Homo sapiens: one gene and its partners. The protein of the gene in region 3 interacts with the protein of the main gene of each other region in a pairwise test. Each region holds a gene or a part of one and is shown on either strand. Other genes may lie near its edges.

What was found. The genes of interacting proteins can lie anywhere in the genome.
Region 1: the proteins of TBC1D22B (region 3) and HSD17B14 interact in binary tests that used the Homo sapiens proteins (3 or more experiments, as listed by UniProt).
Region 2: the proteins of TBC1D22B (region 3) and DEUP1 interact in binary tests that used the Homo sapiens proteins (3 or more experiments, as listed by UniProt).

What each region holds. Positions count from the first base shown.
Region 1 is NC_000019.10:48,812,503-48,819,501, reverse strand, and holds the end of HSD17B14 (L-fucose dehydrogenase), read left to right. Parts: intron 1-4,360; coding exon 4,361-4,465; intron 4,466-5,771; coding exon 5,772-5,839; intron 5,840-5,949; coding exon 5,950-6,046; intron 6,047-6,153; coding exon 6,154-6,327; 3' UTR 6,328-6,484; downstream 6,485-6,999. UniProt on the Homo sapiens protein: Catalyzes the NAD(+)-dependent oxidation of L-fucose, yielding L-fucono-1,5-lactone, which rapidly converts spontaneously to L-fucone-1,4-lactone. Can also act on D-arabinose and L-galactose, with lower catalytic efficiency. Does not use NADPH.
Region 2 is NC_000011.10:93,431,732-93,438,756, reverse strand, and holds the end of DEUP1 (deuterosome assembly protein 1), read right to left. Parts: intron 6,520-7,025; coding exon of another isoform or gene 6,505-6,519; exon of another isoform or gene 6,252-6,504; intron 3,964-6,251; exon of another isoform or gene 3,717-3,963; intron 1,215-3,716; coding exon 1,038-1,214; 3' UTR 287-1,037; downstream 1-286. UniProt on the Homo sapiens protein: Key structural component of the deuterosome, a structure that promotes de novo centriole amplification in multiciliated cells.
Region 3 is NC_000006.12:37,281,770-37,288,794, reverse strand, and holds part of TBC1D22B (TBC1 domain family member 22B), read right to left. Parts: intron 6,611-7,025; coding exon 6,431-6,610; intron 5,914-6,430; coding exon 5,843-5,913; exon of another isoform or gene 5,782-5,842; intron 4,460-5,781; coding exon 4,331-4,459; intron 1,789-4,330; coding exon 1,723-1,788; intron 1-1,722. UniProt on the Homo sapiens protein: May act as a GTPase-activating protein for Rab family protein(s).

The DNA of each region.
Region 1 (6,999 bases), on a different chromosome or scaffold from region 3:
CAGATCAGGCAGGGCCTTGAAGGGCATGCTGAATCATCTGGTCTTTATGTCAAGAGCAATAGGGAGCTGTGGCAGGTATTTGAGCAAGGGAGTGATGTGATCCTGTTAGTATTATTAACAGATCATAGGCTCTGGCTCCTGTAGGTATGAGGGACAAATCTGAGGGTTAAGCGTGAGAGTGGGAGAACCAGTATTAGGAGTTGATTGCATTTGAGCTGGGCATGGTGGCTCACGCCTGTAATCCCAGCACTTTGGGAGGCCGAGGTGGGCAGGTTGCCTGAGGTCAGGAGTTCGAAACCAGTCTGGCCAACATGGAGAAACCCCGTTGCTACTAAAAATACAAAAATTAGCCAGGCGTGGTGGTAGGCGCCCGTAATCCCAGCTACTCGGGAGGCTGAGGCAGAAGAATTGCTTGAACCTGGGAGGTGGAGGTTGCAGTGAGCCGAGATCGTGCCACTGCACTCAAGCCTGGGTGACAGAGCAATACTCTGTCTCTGAAACAAACAAACAAAAAAAGGAGTTGATTGCATTTGTCCAAGGGAGAAGTGGGGGCCTTCAAGGCCTCGTGATCTGGCCCCTGTTCTTCTCTGACCTCACCTCCGGCCACACTGGCCTCATTGCTCCCAAACACAACAGGCCTGCTCCTGTCTCAGAACCTTGGCACTTAAGAACTGGGGTCTCAGTATGTTGCCCAGGCTGGCCTTGAACTTCTGGACTGAAGCGATCCTCCCACCTCAGTCTCCCAAAGCACTGACATTACAGGTACCTGCCACTGCACCTGGCCCCCAGCGGGTCCTTGATATAGAGCAGGTGCTTAGCAACCTTGAGGGGTGTGGGGAGAAGGACACTCAGGGAGTGTGGGACAAATATTTACTGAGCTCCAGCTGTGTGCCTCGTGCTGGGGTGAGGGTGGCAAGATCCGTGTCTCAGCCCTGGTGAGACTCATGTTTGCAGGGTCAGGTGGGGGAGGAGATTAAACAGCAGGGCAGGTGCACAGACTGAGAGAGAAATGGAGCAAGGCAGGTGGGGTGGGCACTGGGAGGGAGGGAGGGTGTCACGGCTGGTGGGAGTGAGAGGAGGCGAGGATGAGAGGTTCCCTGAGGAGGAGGGCAGAGGCTGGTCAATGCCCACATCATTCACGTTCATATTAGAGCATGGTTTCTCTTTTTCTTTTTTCTTTTTTCTTTTTTTTTGAGACAGTCTTTATCTGCTGCCCAGGCTGGAGTGCAGTGGTGCGATTGTGGCTTACTGCAACCTCTGCCTCCCGGGATCAAGAGATTCTCCTGCCTCAGCCTCCCGAGTAGCTGGGATTACAGGCACGCACCACCACACCCGGCTAATTTTTGTATTTTTAGTAGAGATGGGGTTTTGCCATGTTGACCAGTCTGGTCTTGAACTCCTGACCTCAGGTGACTGCCCGCCTCAGCCTCCCAAAGTTCTAGGATTACAGGTGTGAGCCACTGTGCCTGGCCTAAAGTTCTTAATACTTAGAATTGTGAGAAATTGTTGTTTGTTTATGGGTTTGGGTCTCAGCCTGTCCAGCAGCAAATGCTGGTGCTGTCAGGTGTCACGTGATGCCCTGCGGGCGTCAATCATCCCTCCATTCCTTAGTCTCCTCGCTTGTGAAATGGGACTCTCAGCTGTACCTCCTTCTTGTAGGTACAGGAGAATGTTAGAGGGATGAAATGAGCTAATCCATGTAAATTGCTGAGGACAGGGCTGGACACATACCAGGTCCTCCATTCATTCATTAATTCACCCATTCATTCATTCAAAGGATATTTATGAAGCATGTGCTATGTGCCAGGCACCTTTAGTGCTGGGGAAGAAACAAAATAAGAAATCTTGACCATCCCTCATAGGTTTCTGCATGCTGGTGGGAGAGACAGAACATGAACAAACAAGTAAAATATATATGGCCTGTCAGAAGGGAGTGTGTGACACAGAGAAAAGACATCTGAAAGAGGGAAGGGGACCCAGGGGTGTGGGAACTGCAGTTTTATTTTATTATTTTATTTTTTGGGGCCAGGCGTGGTGGCTGACGCCTGTAATCCCAGCACTTTGGGAGGCCGAAGCAGGCAGATTACTTGACCTCAGGAGTTCAAGACCAGCCTGGCTAACATGGTGAAACCCCATCTCTACTAAAAAATACAAAAATTAGCCAGGCATGGTGACACATGCCTGTAGTCCCAGCTACTCAGGAGACTGAGGCAGGAGAAGGGCTTGAACCTGGGGGGAGGAGGTTGCAGTGAGCCAAGATGACATCACTGCACTCCAGCCTGGGCAACAGAGTGAGACTCTGTCTCAAAAAATAAAACAAAAAATATTTTTTTGTTGTTAAAAAAAATAAAGACAGGCCAGGCACAGTGGCTCAAGCCTGGAATCCCAGCACTTTGGGAGGCCGAGCCAGGCAGATCATGTGAGATCAGGAGTTCGAGACCAGCCTGGCTAATATAGTGAAACCCTGTCTCCACTAAAAAAAAAAAAAAAAAAAAAAAATTATCCTGGTGTGGGGGCACATGCCTGTAGTCCCAGCTACTCGGGAAGCCGAGGCAGGAGAATTGCTTGAACCTGGGAAGTGGAGGTTGCAATGAGCTGAGATTGCACCACTGCATTCCAGCCTAGACAACAGAGTGATACCCTATCTGAAAGAAAGAGAGAGAGAGAGAGAAAGAAAAGAAAGAAAGAAAGAAAGAAAGAAAGAAAGAAAGAAAGAAAGAAAAAGGGTCTTGCTAAGCTGCCCATGCTGGCCTCAAACACCTGGGTTCAAGCAATCCTCCCTCCTCGGCTTCCCAAAGTGCAAGGATTACAGGTGTGAGCTAGTGATCCTGGCTTGCAGCTTTAAACAGTATAGCCAGGGAAGACCTCACTGAGGAGGTGACCTCGGATCAGGGTTTGAGGGAGCTGAGGGAGTGTTTACCCAGGAAAGTCCCCGTTTAGCATTGACACTGTGGACTGAAAATACCATGTCCCCAAAAACCCTTCAGTCCTGGGCAAACTGGGATGGCTGGCCACCCTAAGAGTGGGTCATGTGGCTCTCTTAGGAAAAGGCACTCCAGGCAGAGGGAACAGCAAGTTCAAAGGCCCTGAGGTTTGAACACGCAGGGTGTGTCGAAGATACAGCACGGAAAAGGGTGGAGGTCGTTTGGGAGGGGAGCAGAAATGGCTTGAAAGAGTTGGTGGGGGGAACCGGGCAGGGAGCTCATTTAGATTCCCACTCGGAGAGCCTGCTAGGGGTGCTGCCTTGTACCAATTAGTCTTAAGTGGCAGGGACAGGCCTTGCCTGGCCAGCTCAGCTTTCTAAGGCAAGCGAGATCAAAGATAGAATTTGAGTTTATCCAAGGTCATGTGTAGTCAACGAACACACACGCACACACACAGAGAGAGTATTTAGGGACTTCCCAGGTGGCCAGGGAGTTGAATTGCAGGAGAAACGGTGGCAGGAAACAGTGCATTTCTTTTTTTTTTTTTTTTTTTTTCTGAAACGGAGTCTTGCTCTGTTGCCCAGGCTCGAGTGCAGTAGCGCAATCTTGGCTCACTGCAACCTCCACCTCCCGGGTTCAAGTAGTTCTCCTGCCTCAGCCTCCCAAGTAGCTGAGATTACAGGAATGCACCACCATGCCTGGCTAATTTTGTATTTTTAGTAGAGATGGGGTTTCATCATGTTGGCCAGGCTGGTCTCAAAATTCTGACCTCAGATGATCCACCCACCTCAGCCTCCCAAAGTGCTGGGATTACAGGTGTGAGACACTGTGCCTGGTCTAGAGTGCCTTTCATGAAGGCCTCATAGAAACCATCTCCCCCTCCATGGATAAAAGAACTTCCTGGCTGGGTGTGATGCCTCGTGCCTGTAATCCCAACACTTTGGGAGGCCGAGCGGGGAGGATTGCTTGAGCCCAGGAGTTCGAGGCTGCAGTGAGCTATGATCGTGCCACTGCAGTCCAGCCTGGGCCACAGAGACTTCACCGGAAAATAACTTCATCCCATTTTTGAAAAATATGCAGCCTTCTGGATCTCTCATCCATTTTCCTGTCTTGATATGGACAGGAATTTGAGTAACATACAAAGACCAAGGGAGAAGGGACAGAGGTAGAGACAAAGACAGAGTCAGAGACCGAGGAGAAGAGAGAGAAATCCCTTCCCACCAAGGAGAGACTCCTTGAGTGCTGAGACCCAGCGACCCCAGGGCAAACCAGAGAGGGTGTTATGTTAGATGCCGTCTCTAGCAGTCACTGAGATCAACTAGAAACATGCCAGGGAGGTGGCCGTCATCCCAGACATCAGGATGGCTGTGGCTGTGTTTCAGTGGTCTGCGAAGATGCAGGGCTTGTGTAGCTTACTTGGCCTCTTGTCTCCCTAGCTCGCCCTCCCCTACCTGCGGAAGAGTCAAGGGAATGTCATCAACATCTCCAGCCTGGTGGGGGCAATCGGCCAGGCCCAGGCAGTTCCCTATGTGGCCACCAAGGTATGGCAGCCCCTACCCCTTCCTTCCCTCCCTACTCCTTCCCATGGGCCTTGGCTTTGAGTCCAGACAACTTAGGAGCCAGACCTAGCAAGATCTTGGCCCTAGAAAGTCTCACACCTAACTCCCAGATGCAGCACCCAGGCATAACTGCCTGTGACAGATTTCTGTTTTTTCTTTTCTTTTCTTTTTTTTTTTTTAAAGATGGAGTCTCGCTCTGTCACCAGGCTGGAGTTCAGTGGTGCAATCTCAGCTGCAACCTCTGCCTCCTGGGTTCAAGGGATTCTCCTGACTCAGCCTCCCGAGTAGCTGGGACTACAGGCGCATGCCACCGCACCCAGCTAATTTTTTTTGTATTTTTTAGTAGAGACGGGGTTTCACCATGTTAGCCAGGATGGTCTCGATCTTCTGACTTCATGATCTGCCTGCCTTGGCCTCCCAAAGTGCTGGGATTACAGGCATGAGCCACCGCACCCAGCAGATTTCTGTTTTTTCTTTTCTTTCTTTCTTTTTTTTTGAGATGGAGTTTCGCTCTTATTGCCCAGGTTGGAGTGCAATGGTGTGATCTTGGCTCACTGCAACCTCCGCCTCCCGGGTTCAAGTGATTCTCCTGCCTCAGCCTCCCAAGTAGCTGAGATTACAGGTGGCTGTCACCACGCCCAGCTAGATTTTTGTATTTTTTAGTAGAGACGAGATTTCACCATGTTGGTCAGGCTGGTCTCGAACTCCCGACCTCAGGTGATCCACCCACCTCGGCCTCCCAAAGTGCTGGGATTACAGGCATGAGCCACTGTGCCCGGCTAACTTTCTTTTTTTCTTTTCTTTTCTTTTCTTCTTTTTTTTTTTAGATAGGGTCTCACTCTGTCACCCAGGTTGCAGTGTGGTGGCATGATCTCAGCTCACTGCAACCCCTGCCTCATGGGTTCAAGCGATTCTCACGCCTCAGCCTCCCCAGTAGCTGGGATTACAGGCGTGCACCACCATGTCCGGTTAATTTTTGTATTTTTAGCAGAGATGGGGTTTTGCCATGTTGGCCAGGCTGGTCTCGAACTCCTGGCCCAAGTGATCCACCCATCCCGGCCTCCCAAAGTGCTGGGATTACAGGTGTGAGCCACTGCACCTGGCCTTCCTGTGACAGATTTCTATGCCAAGTTTCTCCCAAGAAACCAAGCCTGGTGCCTCTGAAGGCAGCCTTCAAGGAGGGCATGACTTCCCCATTCTGATGCCCCCCTGGCTGGCAGGAGACAATGGATGGCAGGGACCCCATGTCCCGGGGACTGAACTTTCTTCCCCGCTCCATTTCCTGCAGGGGGCAGTAACAGCCATGACCAAAGCTTTGGCCCTGGATGAAAGTCCATATGGTGTCCGAGTCAACTGGTGAGCTGCTCTGAGCAGGCGGAGAGCCTCCTGGGGGGACTGGGGTGACTGGGAGTGATCCCAAGTGGTTCGAGACAGATTGCTTTGATCCCCCCTCTCCCTTCCTCTAGTATCTCCCCAGGAAACATCTGGACCCCGCTGTGGGAGGAGCTGGCAGCCTTAATGCCAGACCCTAGGGCCACAATCCGAGAGGGCATGCTGGCCCAGGTAGAAGTGGGGTTCAGATCCAGGTGGTAGAAGGTGGCATGGGGGTGGGGGGCATGGCGATCAAGTGGGGCTCCTCTTGACCTCCTTCCCCCCTCTTTTCTCCCCAGCCACTGGGCCGCATGGGCCAGCCCGCTGAGGTCGGGGCTGCGGCAGTGTTCCTGGCCTCCGAAGCCAACTTCTGCACGGGCATTGAACTGCTCGTGACGGGGGGTGCAGAGCTGGGGTACGGGTGCAAGGCCAGTCGGAGCACCCCCGTGGACGCCCCCGATATCCCTTCCTGATTTCTCTCATTTCTACTTGGGGCCCCCTTCCTAGGACTCTCCCACCCCAAACTCCAACCTGTATCAGATGCAGCCCCCAAGCCCTTAGACTCTAAGCCCAGTTAGCAAGGTGCCGGGTCACCCTGCAGGTTCCCATAAAAACGATTTGCAGCCAGAAGGAGGAGGATATCGTTATATTTATTTCCCATCCTTTAGACGAGTCCTTCTGCCCCACTTAGCCCTTGCACCCCAGACCCACAAGTTGCCTCGACCCTGAAGGACTGCAGCTCCCCCCGCCCCCCAACCCCAGGCCTTGCAGCAAGCAGGTGCCTGATGTTGCTAGCCCTGTCGCTGTCGCCAGGGGCTCCTGGGAAGGGTAGAGCGGTTTGGCTTCACCAGCGCGCTAACTAAAGGCCCGCAGGGGAGAGTAAATTAAGCGCTAATTAGGAGGTAATGGAGGGGGAGACGCAGAAGGCCCTCTTACTCTTGGCCCTCAGGGAAAAGGAGTTTTCCTCTCACTGCCTGTAGAATAGGAAGGTGGCTGGCAAGAAAAGTCCAAAGGGAAGAGAAAGTAGGGGGTTGAGACATCTGGATCAGAGGGAGGAGGGGCTGAAACTCCTGGGTTTTGGTCCGCAGGGCACTGGGGGACGCAGACTCCCCAGCTGGACCCAGGGGGGGGGCAGGGCCCGGGTG
Region 2 (7,025 bases), on a different chromosome or scaffold from region 3:
CTAATGGCATTTTGGTTTATCTTTCAGTATGATGAGATTGTTTCTTTAAAGGGAAATAGAGAACTGTAAAAGCTGTAGTAGGACTTACCTTCTTTCATAATCTCTCTTCATATATACATATATATATATATATAGAGAGAGAGAGAGACATATATATACACACACACACATATGTGAAACTCTTAAAGTATATTGTATTATTGCTGTGTATTTGTAACTCTGTTTTATTGTTCACAGCCATGCTATTACTGTTCTATACAGATTTAGCATTTATGCTTCAAGTCCATTGAATTTTACATTCCTTTATTGTATTAAAAACAGAAGTGATTACAAAGGAAAATGTAGCAACAGTAATGCTTTATATTTCCTTTATCTTGTTTGTGTCCATGAAGTAATTAGTACTAACAAAAAAGCGTTAATTTTTGGCACATATATTTTAGGTTTGTAAATTGCACATTCCATATACCTTCATTGTGTTGAAACAGACAGACATTATAAAGGTGAATGTAAAAACAATAAAGCTATAGCTTTTTTTTTCCAAAAAATTATAGAATTTTAGAGTGTTTACATAACTGGAAATACTTAAATATTTTTATTTATAAAATCCTTGAGTTTTCAAAACCAGTACAACTGAGCTGCCTTTGAGTCATTTGTATCTGGAATATAGCACTTCCCTTTCTCTTATTTTGTGTAGTTGCTGAGGAAATGGGTTTTCAGTATACATGATTCAAGTGGGGAAAAAAAACTGCATATTTGATTCCAAAATATTCCTTAGACTGGAAAAAAATCTCTTTTGGAATAGTCATGTTTATTTTATAGTAACTCTACAGCAGGACAATTTAGCATGTTAATGCAGAAATGTGAACAGCTTTATAGAACAAAATACTTACTATTTTCTAGCTGCCTTACGGAAATTATTTACTCAAGGAAACAGAACAGAATTTCTTGGTTTCATTAATCAGCTTTGTAAATATTTTGCCAGAGCTTTTTTTCTTGGCGGGGGTGGGGGGGGGAAGCAAATAAAAAAGTTTAAAAGCTCATATGTGTCTATTTTGTTTTAGCTTGGAGTATTTATTAAGAGTAAATTCTGTGTGTCTTTGCAGTTCATCAATATGTGTATTTAGAAGTTTTTCAAGTTCTTTTGCTCGTTTCTCTTCTTCCAGAAGGAAATGCTGTGCAGCCAAAGATGCTGGGAAGGACATATCTGGGGGAGACTAAAGAGAGAAAGAAAGAAAAGTGAGTGAGGAATACAGAGCTTTAAAAAATCTTCCCATTTCCAGGCATGCTTCATCCCTGACATACTGTCAAACACCGCAGCTCTTAATGAAAGAATACATCCTGGGCTGAATTCCCACTACTAGTGTAATTCAGTTACCACTAATGAAATCCTCAAGGAACTAAGTAAGACATCACAGCACCATTACATTAAAAAGCTCTACAAATGAGTGTTATATTGTCCAACTGCAAATGCAGGGACAATGCACTCACCATGGAACCTGCCTAAAACATGCTGCAATCATTTGCAAAGCCAATGATTTTCATTTGAAAATAGGCAACTCCAAAAAGCTAAAGTAAAGATTATAGTGGAATTGCACTAGACAGTTTATAGAGAAGAAAATAAGGATTGGCTTTGACAGGGAGAATCAATGCTTGGAGTTAGCCAGGTGAGAGGGCTGGCTGCATGATGTGTCTTGGGGTGGAGGTGGCTCCCTAGTAGGGAAGGCTTGATGCTGGCATGTATCTTGTTTGTCTTATCACAGAGAAGAAAGTATCAGGGACAAGTGCCCCAATTCCACCCTTCATGGTGACATGAAAATGCTATTTAATTGTTTGTGACCTGTTTAGTGCTTATTTAAAAAAAAATAAAAATCTGTGGCTAAAGAATAAAGGACAACATCAGATAATTTTACAATTCTTCGTTTTGAAAAGCCACATACAAAAATTAAGTAATTTTTTTTTGTTGGGGAAATCTGTACTTTAATTTTCCAGTTCTGTGGTTGCTATATTCTTCTTTGATTTTCATTTTGGTAGGAAGAATGGGACTTTATGTAGTGTTTGGGGAGTCGACAATCTGTATACATGTGAACCTTGTTAGGTGGATTTTGTTCACCAATCTGGCCCCTGCCAAAACTAGGGATCATGCAAATGATGGAGTACTGCACACTTTTCCAACCAGTAGGCCCAACTGTAGCTGCTGTGTCAGGGATAGTATCTCTACTAGAGAAGACTATCACAGCCTGGGGTAGATGGTATGCTACTATTGATCTGGCAAATGCATTATTTTTAATATTGGCAAATGCATTCTTTTTAATATCTAATAAAAAGGAGGATAGGAAGCAGTTAGCATTCACATGTGGTGGCCAACAATATATATCCATGGTTTTGCCCCAAAGTTATGTTAATGAAGCTGTCACAATAAATTCTGAAGGGGCCTAGCCCATCTGGACATTCCAAAGACTATCACATGGAACATCATATATTAACACTAACATCATGTTAATGAGACTTGATGAGCAAGAAGTGGCAAGTATGTTAAAGGGATGGAAAGATGTATGTACTCCAGAAGGTGAAAGATAAACCCCATAAAAGATTGGGGCTTGACACATTGTTTTTAGGTGTCTACTGCTATGTGGCATGTCAGAACATCCTAGGTAAAGCAAAAATTAATGCACCTTGAAAATGTTCCACCCTTGGATCAAATAATTGAATAATCTGATTCATTTATTGGGTGACACAGAAAAAATTTTTTTTTTTTTTTTTTGAGACGGAGTCTCACTCTGTCGCCCACACTGGAGTGCAGTGGCGTGATCTCGGCTCACTGCAAGCTCCACCTCCCGGGTTCACGCCATTCTCCTGCCTCAGCCTCCCGAGTAGCTGGGACTACAGGCGCCCGCCACCACTCCCGGCTAATTTTTTGTATTTTTAGTAGAGACGGGGTTTCACCATGTTAGCCAGGATGGTCTCGATCTCCTGACCTCGTGATCTGCCCTCCTCGGCCTCCCAAAGTGCTGGGATTACAGGCGTGAGCCACCATGCCTGGTGAAAAAATTATTTTGTGAGAAAGCCCAGAACTCTGGAAAGAAAGAGCTGTGTAGGAGGTTCAGGATAGGGTACAAGTAGTCCTGCTACTTTGGTCAAATAACTTGGTAGATCCCATACTAGAAGAATCTCTGGTAAAGAAAAATGCCTTGTGGAGCCTCTGGCAAGTTTCATCGGGAAAGCTGTGTTGCAGACCCTTAAGATTCTGGAACAAGGCTATGCTATCTGTAGCAGAAACCTATATACTATTTGCAAGACAATTCTTGTCATGCTGTTGAGTCCTGGTTGAGACTCCAGCAAGTGGACAGGATGATTTGATCCAGCCTTTGTCTTTGGCTACCTCAGTGGGAATTATGCATCATCCCAATACCATGATTTCCCCTTTCACCAAGGGTAATCCAGCTGCTATTGCTGTTGAATGTCTGACCTGCTTGCAACAGAAACCAAAGCTGAGCTCTTGATATGGCATCATCCCTCAAGGAGACCAGCCAGCCTCTTGGTGGCAACTTGACTGCAATAGGTCCCTAGCACCTTGGAAAGGGCAATGCTGTATGCTTATCAGAATGGATATGAATTCTGCGTGTTTGCCTTTCCTGGCTGCACCACTATCTTAGGGCTCACAGAATCACTTATCTGCAGACATGAGAGAGACCCTGCTTAATAGTAAAGGTACCTACTTTATAGCAAAAGAGTATGGCAGTGGGGGCACGACCATGGTATCCACTGGTCCTAACCACACACAGCACTATCCAGAGGATGCTAACATGATAGAGCTTTGGGACGGCCTCTTGAGGGCAAAGCTGAGGCACCAGCTTGGAGATTATATCCTGTGAGGTTGGGGTGCCATTCTTCAGGATGTGGTATAGACTTTAAACCGATGGCTGTTTTATGGTTCTGTGTTTCCAATGGGTAGAATACATGGATCTGGGAACAAAAGGGAGGAAGTAGGAATGGCTTCACTCTCTATCACTTCTGTTAACCCACTTGGAGAATCTGTGCTTTCTGTCTATGTATCTTTAGGCTCTGTTGTTCTACAGGTCCTGGCTCTTAGAGGCGGAATGCTTCTACCAAGAGACCTGTAAGAGTCCCACCAAACTTAGAGCTTTGGCTCCCATGTGGTCACTTTGGGCTCCTCATGCCAACAGATCAGACACACAGAGTGGAGTTCCTATATTGGCAGAGGTAGCTGACCCTAAGTCATCCTGAAGAGTTAAGATTGCTACTGCATAACAGAGGCAGTGAGGAATGTGTTTGGTACTCTGATGATCCTCTGAGGCATCTTTTGGTACTCTCATGCCCAATTTTAATTTTAATTGGCAAATACAGAAACCATATCCTAATAAGGGCATGGACATTAGGGGCTCACCCCAAAAGAAAAGCCACCTGGATCAACAGAAGAGTTGGCTGACGGGGAGAGGAATCTAGAATGGGTGAGGCAGTGATAGGTGTCAGCGACCAATTGCAGCATGAGGGGCTGTGGCTTATCTCACTAACTTTCCTCTCAACAGTTTTTCCAGAAATTATGACCAGCAAGAATCGTGAAGAAGCTATGCCTGAATGGAAGCTATGGAAGAAGGTGGTTCTGAGTGGTGCAACAGGTTGACCATGGTGGTTGGTCCCCTACCCGGATCCCCTTCCCCAGGCTGATGCATCTCTCCTCTAGCTGGGTGGGTGTTGGCTACTAACAGCTCACAGCTGGCTCCTTTGGGGAACTGCCCTCCACCGAACTGGAGGCTCCTGCCTCACCTGGGAGGCTGCAGTCCCTCCTCTGCCCATTTGCTATCCTCTCTGAGGCAATGACTGATTGATGGACACAGGGGCGTAAAATACCAAACTTTTTGTTTGGTGAGAACAAATGCTGTGGTGCAATTCATGTGCCAAGCTTCCTGGGACACCAGGCTATACTAGTTTGTAGCTCAGACCACATCTTTGCTTAATTTTCCTCCCCTTCCCTAGCCTGTCTCCTTCACTCTCCTCCTGAAAATACTAAAATACTCCCTCGGTAAATCGCTTTCACAAGAATCTCATCTCAGATTCTAGGAAACCTGATCTCAGAGAGATGACTTCCTAGATTCTGGCCTGAGTGATTAGTGACACTCATGCCATTTACTGAGAAAGAGAAAAAGGTAAAGGAAGCCATTAAGAGTAAGATATTCTTTCTTTCTTTTTATGGATTGATTGATTGATTGATTGATTTAGAGACAGTGTCTTGCTCTATTGCCCAGGCTGGAGCACAGTGGTGCAACCACAGCTAACTCTTAACTTCCAGCTCCTGGGCTCAAGTGATCCTCCCACTTCAGCCTCCTGAGTAGGTGGGACTATAGGCACACACCACCACACCCAGCTCTTTTTTAAAAAAGTTTTTATAGAAACGGAGCCTCATTATGTTGCCCAGACTGGTCTTGAACTCTTGGGCTCAAGCAATCCCTCTTGCCTTGGCCTGAGATTGTAGGTGTGAGCCACAGCTCCTGGCCTCTTACTTATTTCTGATTCATCAGGTTCTAGCACAGATTCTAGGCCAGTGTGTTTTCAATAAAATTTTTTAGTTAGTTTATGAATGAAGAAAATGGATTCAATTTTGAATAATAATGAGTTTGAGGTGACTTGAGACTTAAACAGACTCAAGTAAACAGTGAGATATGTCAATCTAGGACTCAGAATATAGGTCTGAATCAGAGAGACAGACTTGGAAGTTATAGATGACAAGGCCATGAGATTGACTGAAATTATCCAAGATAGGCAAGTAAAAGGAAAAAAAGAAGTTAAAAGATGGAGCCCTGAAGAATCCTTCATGTCAGGCATCCACCCACATAGCATGTCCTTGACACTATCATCAATGAGAACTGCATTATTTACTAATTGAGATTTAAAGCAACCTATCCATCATCCTTCCAGCATGCTTAATCTAGTACTCCCACGCCAGCATTTCTCTGACCTCATTTAGACTCTTTACTTTTCACTATCCATCATCTTCCTCATACTCTCTCTTCCTAACTCTGCTTATTCCCGTCCATCTCATAACCATTCAGCAACTTGTCCCTCCCTGTATCTTGTCTCTATCCTCATTACCTGGTAAACCCCTGTATCTTGTCTCTATCCTAATAACCTGGTAAAACCCACCCCTAATTAAGCTGGCCCATCTGCCCGGGTCTTGCCTACACCTGAGCAGCTGAATGCTGGAGCCAACAGGTTGGGGGTAAATTACTGCATGGACTAGTTTCACTTTAAATTCATGACCATAAATATCATGTGGTCAGTGAACACTGCAAGGCGATTCTATTGCACTTCCCTAGTATGTTCACTTTCTTACTCATTACGTTGTGGCCTGGCTTCCTCCTAGGAGTCAGAGGGGAGCTCCCTCATTATTCCACATCCATTTGTATCTGTAGCTGAATTTTAGGCCATCCTCCTGTTTCAGAAACTCATCCTTCCTCCTATACTGCAGATCCTATTTCTTCTTACCTCTCAGTGACTTTGTTTCTGCAAATGAAAGAGGACCCTCCTTGAGCCCCATCCTCTTCATTATCAAACTTTCCTCCTGTCCTTCAGGATTCCCATTAGGTCACTCAATATTATGACCCAAGGCTTTGTATTGGGATGATTTCTTTTTTATACTTCAGTATTTTCATCCAGTTCTATAGACTTAAATACCAACCATATGCCGATTATTCCCACATTTGTATTTCCAGCTTTGATCTCTCCCTCGAATATCAGATTCACATATCCTATTGACTATTTAATGTCTACGTTTGGGTGTCTAGTAAACATTTTAAACTTATATGCCCAACCTAGAAATCATGATTACTCCTCTAACCCTATTTCTTCCCTAGTCTTCCCATGTCGGAAAGTGGTATTAGCATCTACTCAATGCTCAGGTTGAAATCCTAGGAGTCATCTTTAATCACTCTTTTCTCCCACTTCCCATAAACAATTCATTGTCAAGTCTGGTCTACACACCAGAATATTTCCTGGATCTAATATGTTGC
Region 3 (7,025 bases):
ATGCACTACTAAAAGAAGCCACCACCCCCCAACCTCTTTTTTTTTTTTTTTTTGAGACAGGATCTTGCTCTGTCACCCAGGCTGGAGTGCAGTAGCACGATCATGGCTCATTGCAGCTTTGACCACCTGGGCTCAAGAGATCCTCCCTCCTCAGCCTCCCAAGTAGCACAGGCACAGTAGCACAGGCACACACCACCATGCCTGGCTAATTCTGTAATTTTTTTGAGACAGGGTCTTGCTATGTTACCCAGACTGGTCTCAAACTCCTAGGCTCAGGCTGGTCTCAAACTCGTGGGCTCAAGCAATCCCTCTGGCCTTGGCCTCCCAAAGTGCTGGGATTATAGGAGTGAGTCATCACGCCTGGCTGAGAAGCCTTTTAAACTGACTACTTTCCTCATCTCCAAATTCAGAGTAAGCATGCACAGGTAAAAGAAAAGTCTCTGAACATCTCCAAGTTAAAATGAGGAATAAGCAGTGCTGAGCCATGGAAAACTGTATGGGAGGATAAAGGGATCATGAATGGGTTTTTAGCTTCCTGTGAGCTGAATCTTATAGTTAAAATAATGATGTTACCTTCAAAATCTTCTTTATGCTATGGGTAAGACATGAGGGACCCCACCAGTGGAGACATCTATATTTAAACAAAATTATAAATATAACCCAAAGTCAAATAGAAATTATTTTCAGCATTTTAACCACCATCCCTCTCTACTATGAGAACTGAAAGTTCCGTTAAAAGAGCACTAGTACTTAGTGTCCTGGCTACTGTAAAGTTGCAAAGGAAATCCCTAATCTTAAGAAGTTTACAGTTACTGCTTGAGTCAAAACATAATAGCCCCACTGACACCTTCCATGTACTTCATTAACTTGTTAGGTCTCAAAATATAACTACTACTCCCACTTCTAAATATATACCCAAAAGAATTTAAAACAGAGACTCAAACAGATATTCACATACCCATACTAGCAGCAGCATTACTCACAATAGCCAAAAGGTGAAAGCAACCCATGTGTCCACTGATAGATGAACAGCTCAACAATATGTGTTACATATGTACAACGGAATATTACTCAGCCTTAAAAAAGGAAATTCACACATGCAACAACAGGGATGAACCTTAAAGATATTATGCTAAGTGAAATAAGCCAGTCACAGAAGGACAAATATTGTATGATTCCACTTATTTGAGCTGCCTGGAGTAGTCAAATTCTTAGAGACAAATAGAATGGAGGCTGCAGAAGAGAGTTAATATTTAATGGATACAGAGTTCCAGTTTGGGAAGATGAAAAATGTTCTGGAAGTGGATGGTGATGATGGTCATACAATAACGTGACTGTACTTAATGCCACTGAACTGTACACTAAAAAATGGTTAACACAGTAAATTTTATATTATGTATATTTTACCACAATTTAAAAAATCACTACTTCCAGCTTGATAAAGTAGAGCAAATACAGGAATAGGAATTCTAAGATGTGGGTTCTTCATTCTGCCACCAGGTAGCCTCAAAATTCTGAGCAAGTTCCTTAGCCTTTCAAAGTGTTATTCCGCTCACAGATTTGTAACAAAGATCAAATGAAAATGTATGAAACCATGCTCTGAAGGAACCAAAGCTGCATATATGAACATAAGGTACTATTATGATTAGCCGCAAACCTGTAAACAGGTGCCACAGAACTATGCGGGGAGAAGCGCCAAAGAACATTAAGTAATTCCCTCACCTCCTGTACAAGTGGTTGCTGGAACAACGGAATGAGAGGATTCGTCCTTGGAATGTCAATGTGAATCTGAAAAAGAGAAGGCATGTCCAAAAACACAAATGCCAGTTTTTTTTTGTTTTTGTTTTTTTGAGATGAAGTCTCGCTCTTGTCCCCCAGGCTGGAGTGCAATGGCACTATCTCAGCTCACTGCAACCTCTGCCTCCAGGGTTCAAGCGATTCTCCTGCCTCAGCCTCCCAAGTAGCTGGGATTACAGGCACCTGCCACCAGGCCTGGCTAATTTTTGCATTTTTAGTAGAGACGGGGTTTCACCATGTTGACCAGGCTGATCTCGAACTCTTGACCTCAGGTGACCCACCCGCCTTGGCCTGCCAAAGTGCTGGGATTGCAGGTGTGAGCCACCGTGCCTGGCCCAGTTTGTTCTTTTGACAATTTTTTTTTAAAGAAATGGGAATCATCTGGCTGGGTGCGGTGGCTCACGCCTGTAATCCCAGCACTTTGGGAGGCCAAGCCGGGCGGATCATGAGGTCAGGAGATCGAGACCATCCTGGCTAACACGGTGAAACCCTGTCTCTACTAAAAATACAAAAAATTAGCCGGGCGTGGTGGCGGGTGCCTGTAGTCCCAGCTACTCGGGAGGCCGAGGCAGGAGAATGGTGTGAACCCGGGAGGTGGAGCTTGCAGTGAGCCGAGATCGGGCCACTGCACTCCAGCCTGGGCGACAGAGCAAGACTCTGTCTCAAAAAAAAAAAAGAAATGGAAATCAAAGTAGTAAGAAAACACAATTTATCTTCAGAAAGAAGTGACTGACACAGGAAAAAAATCTAGTTATACCTACCTGCCCATGTGGAACATGTTTCCATGACAACAATAGCTTATTAAACAGTGAGGAAACCTCCCAAAAGAAACCACTAAAGTCAAATGGCAATAGGCTTCACAGATTAAGGGTTTTTTCTTATTGCTCTGAAGTCTGTTTCACTCTGGGCTGGCATGTATGTAGCAGGTATGATCCAAGTAGGTACCCATCTTTCAGAATCTTACTCATCAACAGTTCCTAAGAACTAGAAGAGCTCAGAAAGCTGCAAAAATGTCCTAAAATAGGGAACCAGAGATGAACTTGCTTATGAAGTCATGATGTGTAAGAAGCGGGGAAGGGCCAGGGCGATGGCTCACGCCTGTGATCCCAGCACTTTGGGAGGCTGAGGCGGGTGGATCACTTGAGGTCAGGAGTTTGAGACCAGCCTGGCCAACATGGTGAAACCCCGTCTCCACTAAAATTACAAAAATTACATGGTGGCTCATACCTGTAATCCCAGCACTTTGGGAGGCCAAGGTGGGTGGATCACCTGAGGCCAGGAGTTCAAGACCAGCCTGGCCAACATGGCGAAACCCCATCTCTACTAAAATTACAAAAATTAGCTGGGTGTGGTGGTGTGCGCCTGTAATCCCAGCTATCCAGGAGGGTGAGGCAGGAGAATCGCTGGAACCCAGCGGACAAAGGCTGGAGCAAGCCGAGATTGCGCCACTGCACTCCAGCCTAAGTGACAGAAAAAGACTCGGTCTCAAAAAAGATAAAGAAAAAATTAGCCGGGCCTGGTGGCACATGCCTGTAATCCCAGCTACTCAGGAAGCCGAGGCAGGAGAATCACCTGAATCCAGGAGGTGGGGGCTGCAGTGAGCCAAGATCACGCCACTGCACTCCAGCCTGGACGACAGAGTGAGACTCCATCTCAAAAAAAAAAAAAAAAAAAAAAAAAAAGTGGGGAAGGACCAAAAGGAGTTGGCCTTCAGTAACTGAAGCTGAAAGTTCTTACTTCTGTTACCTAAGACATCACTATAGTCCATTTCAACTCAGGGATTTCCCAGTGCCCAGTCTAACTATGCAAAAGACTGTGTCAGCAGCAGCAGCAGCAGAGGCTACTTCAGTTCTTGAGGCTTGTTGTAAATAGCTGCCCACCTTCCACTTTCTGCAACCCCTGGCCTACTCTTCTCCTCCCTCCACATGTGATGTTGGGAGCAGACCTTTCCGCAGACCATGAGGACCATTATGGGCAATGACAGAAGACTCCCTGACAAGACTACTGAAAGCTACAGCTCCTACAGTCACAGATGCCAAAACAGCAGTGCAGCTGCCAGGAAGACATACTGATGTCATAGTCCAGAGGGACTGGACCACGGCTAGGTAAGCTTGTCTTTCCTCTCCATGCTCGATAACGCTTACTACTCACAGTGTGGTTGGTGGACCAGCAGCAGCAGCATTGCAAGGGAGCACATCAGAACTTCAGGCTTTACCTGAGACCTGCTAAATCAGAATCTGCATTTTCTCATAATCTCTAGGTGAGATCTTATCAAGATCCTAGGTGATTTGTATGTACATTAAAGTTTGAGAAGCAGTGCACTGACTAGTGCCAAAAAAGTCTGTCTATTTAAAATGGCTAAAATCAGAGTTGCTGAATGAAAAGAGGGGAAACAGTTTTGAGGATAAATTTAACTCCTAACCAATATACCACAGCCTGAAGACTTGGAAAGCCTGTACCCTGAGAGCACTACCATGAGACATACCTAAAGTATATGACTGGTAAGCAAAGAGGCAGCAGGTGGTGACTGTACCTGTCTGTAGGTATCCTGGTGATGTTCCTCGTTTCGAGAGTCATAATACTGTTCAATGAAGCCAAAATATTCCTCCCGCTTCCGCTGCAGGGTCAACTTCCTCCTCTCAGTGTTTGCTGGGAGATAGCCCTATAGACAAGACTGCTGGTCAGATGGGGAAAGACAATGGTTGGATAAATCCTTAATTTTTATTTTAATCTATGCAGTGGTTTGGAAACTACCAAGAAGGAAAACTGCCAAGGGTAAATCCCTTTTTGGTTCTGGCCACCCATTTTTTGCCCTCTCCTCATTCAATGAGATCCACATGTGAGCAGATGAAGCAAGGCCAGCTTTCCCAGGATTATTTACTCCCTTGGCCCTGCACTGTGCTGGAGCTTGTGCCACTGGTGAGCACTCCTCAGCTCCCAGAGCTGGCACAGTACAGCAGTGAATGTAGGTCAGTGGGAGGGAGCTGGACCCAAGTCATGGCCTCGGAGGGCTGTGTGTGTCCAGGGCCATACTTCTGAGAAATGCAGGGATATAGCAACCTCTACAGCACATCTCAGCAGTGTGCCAAGTAAGTTGGTGCCAGTTACATTCTTTTCCAGTGTAACTTTCAGAATTACCAGCTTAGGAAGCAGCTGAATGGAATCTGTGACATACAGCTACAACACTCAGACAGAACTTCTGGCAGCAGCCCCCGGCCTAGCCAAAGCTCCAGGCCAACTTTCATTCTTATCCCTGGTCTAGATCCCACTCTCATTCTTATATTTTCTGTTCCCCTTCCGTTCTCACCAAATCTACTCTGAATAGTATTCAAACTTATTAGAAGTGGCAGAGGCAATGATTGCATGGTTGCAAGAGTAGAGGTGGGGGCGAGCAGTCAGGAGACAGACCCTTCTTCTTGAAAACATTTATGTAATGCATTCTGCAGTGAGTGCCTGGAGAGTGGGGACTGTGGTTTATTCATTTTTGCATCTGCTCAAAGCATCTGGCACTATGCCTGGCAAACAGCAGGCTCTCAATAAATCCTCACTAGATGAATGAATGAATTTTACAGGCTCAGGAAACCCAAGTGTTTCTATCATAGCGGCTGGCACAGTGCTCTGTACTTGGTGAAAGCAGGACTAGTAAAGCTTCCAAGGGAGGCCAATTTATCAACTCTTCACAGATCAAAGTGGGTTTCAACTTTTGGTTATTCCGGCTGAAACAGGAGTGAAGCACAGGGAACGTTGGAGCTTACTCAAAGCAAGTGCTGGGATCACCCTATCTCACTCTATTCTTCTTCCTCGCTGTTAAGAACATGACACCATGACTATTGGTACAAGTCTGTGTACCACTACATGTGTGTGAATAAACTCTCAAGAATGTATTTCTTTATGCACAGAAATAGGACTATAGTCCCATAGTTCTGTCATATCCAGTAGGACTAGAGAAGTCTATGGAGTTAAGACCAATGTGTCCAGACTAACCTCATCAGGCAAGAAGGGCTGTGTGAGGCTCACATTTCTCTACACAGTGGGTAGAACTCACCGACAGGAGTCTCCAGGTTATAGGTCGAACCTCCCTGGGAACCCCTGGCCAGCTACACTTCCTCAGTTCATCTGTAAATAGAAAACAGCCTTGTTAGGTTAACTCTCCACAAATGCTCTAAAGCAAACCGCAACCAGCACTGCCTGATGTCTCCTTCCATCCATGTAAGACCACCACCACCACCTGCTACCCATAAGCACAGTGAAAAGCCCAAAACAGCCCCGAGCAGCTAAGTGCCAAGGACACGGCCTTGCAGTAGCAGTCCTGTCAGCTCAGAGATGAAAGTTAGAGGGGAAGGGAAAGACCAGTGGGTGTAGATTTCAGTAAGAGTCACCTTGAGATAAGGAAGACCAAAGTCAGAATAGTTGCACTAGGGTCTACAGGCCACAGAAACCAGTCCCACCTAATTTGGTCCATAATCTCTAGTAACATATGTCTGACTTAATACCTGCATGTCACTGCAATGGGCACCAGGTCAGGAGAAGCTAGAAAAGTAAAAGAAGGAAGAATAAAGAGCAGTAGCTTCCAGGTCTCTGAGAATTCCAGTCACCCAAAGCTCCTACCTTGCCTGGGCTCACAGGGACTCACCTAAGTCAGTGTTCTGGCTGGAGAGAAGTTGACGGAATTTTTCTAGGCGGGTTTTCTCCCGGACAGTCATTGGGGGGGCCCCAGAAGCGTTCTGATCCGAGATCCGGGCAACGAGGGGGATGATGGGCCGGAGAGGGAGTGATTGCTGTTTGTGGAGTGGGTTCCTCAGGCATGTATCACCTGAGATCATTTGAAAAAGAAAGAGAACGGGCTGTGTGAGGAGTATGGATTCTGAGAAGCCTTAAACCTAACCGTTCAGCATTGTGTTTCCTCCCCAAGGGTGTGGCTGCCTGTGTGCACTGTCTGAGGTGCCCAGCTGAAGGGCAGCGAGGGGCCAGAACCCAGCCACACCCCATTCACTGCCCAGAGAAAGGGCTGCATTTATATCAAACACACCAAGGCACCTTAGGTGGTAACAGAGACGCCAGATGCTGCAGCAACTTTTGAGAACTTTTTTGGTGACTCTAAAGGTGCTAACAGAGACTCCAGATGCTGCAGCAACTTTTGAGAACTTTTTTGGTGACTCTAAAGGAAAATCAAATGTTTTCTTTCTACCCTAACTTGGAACTTTTCTTGGTGCCAAATAGTGAGTTTA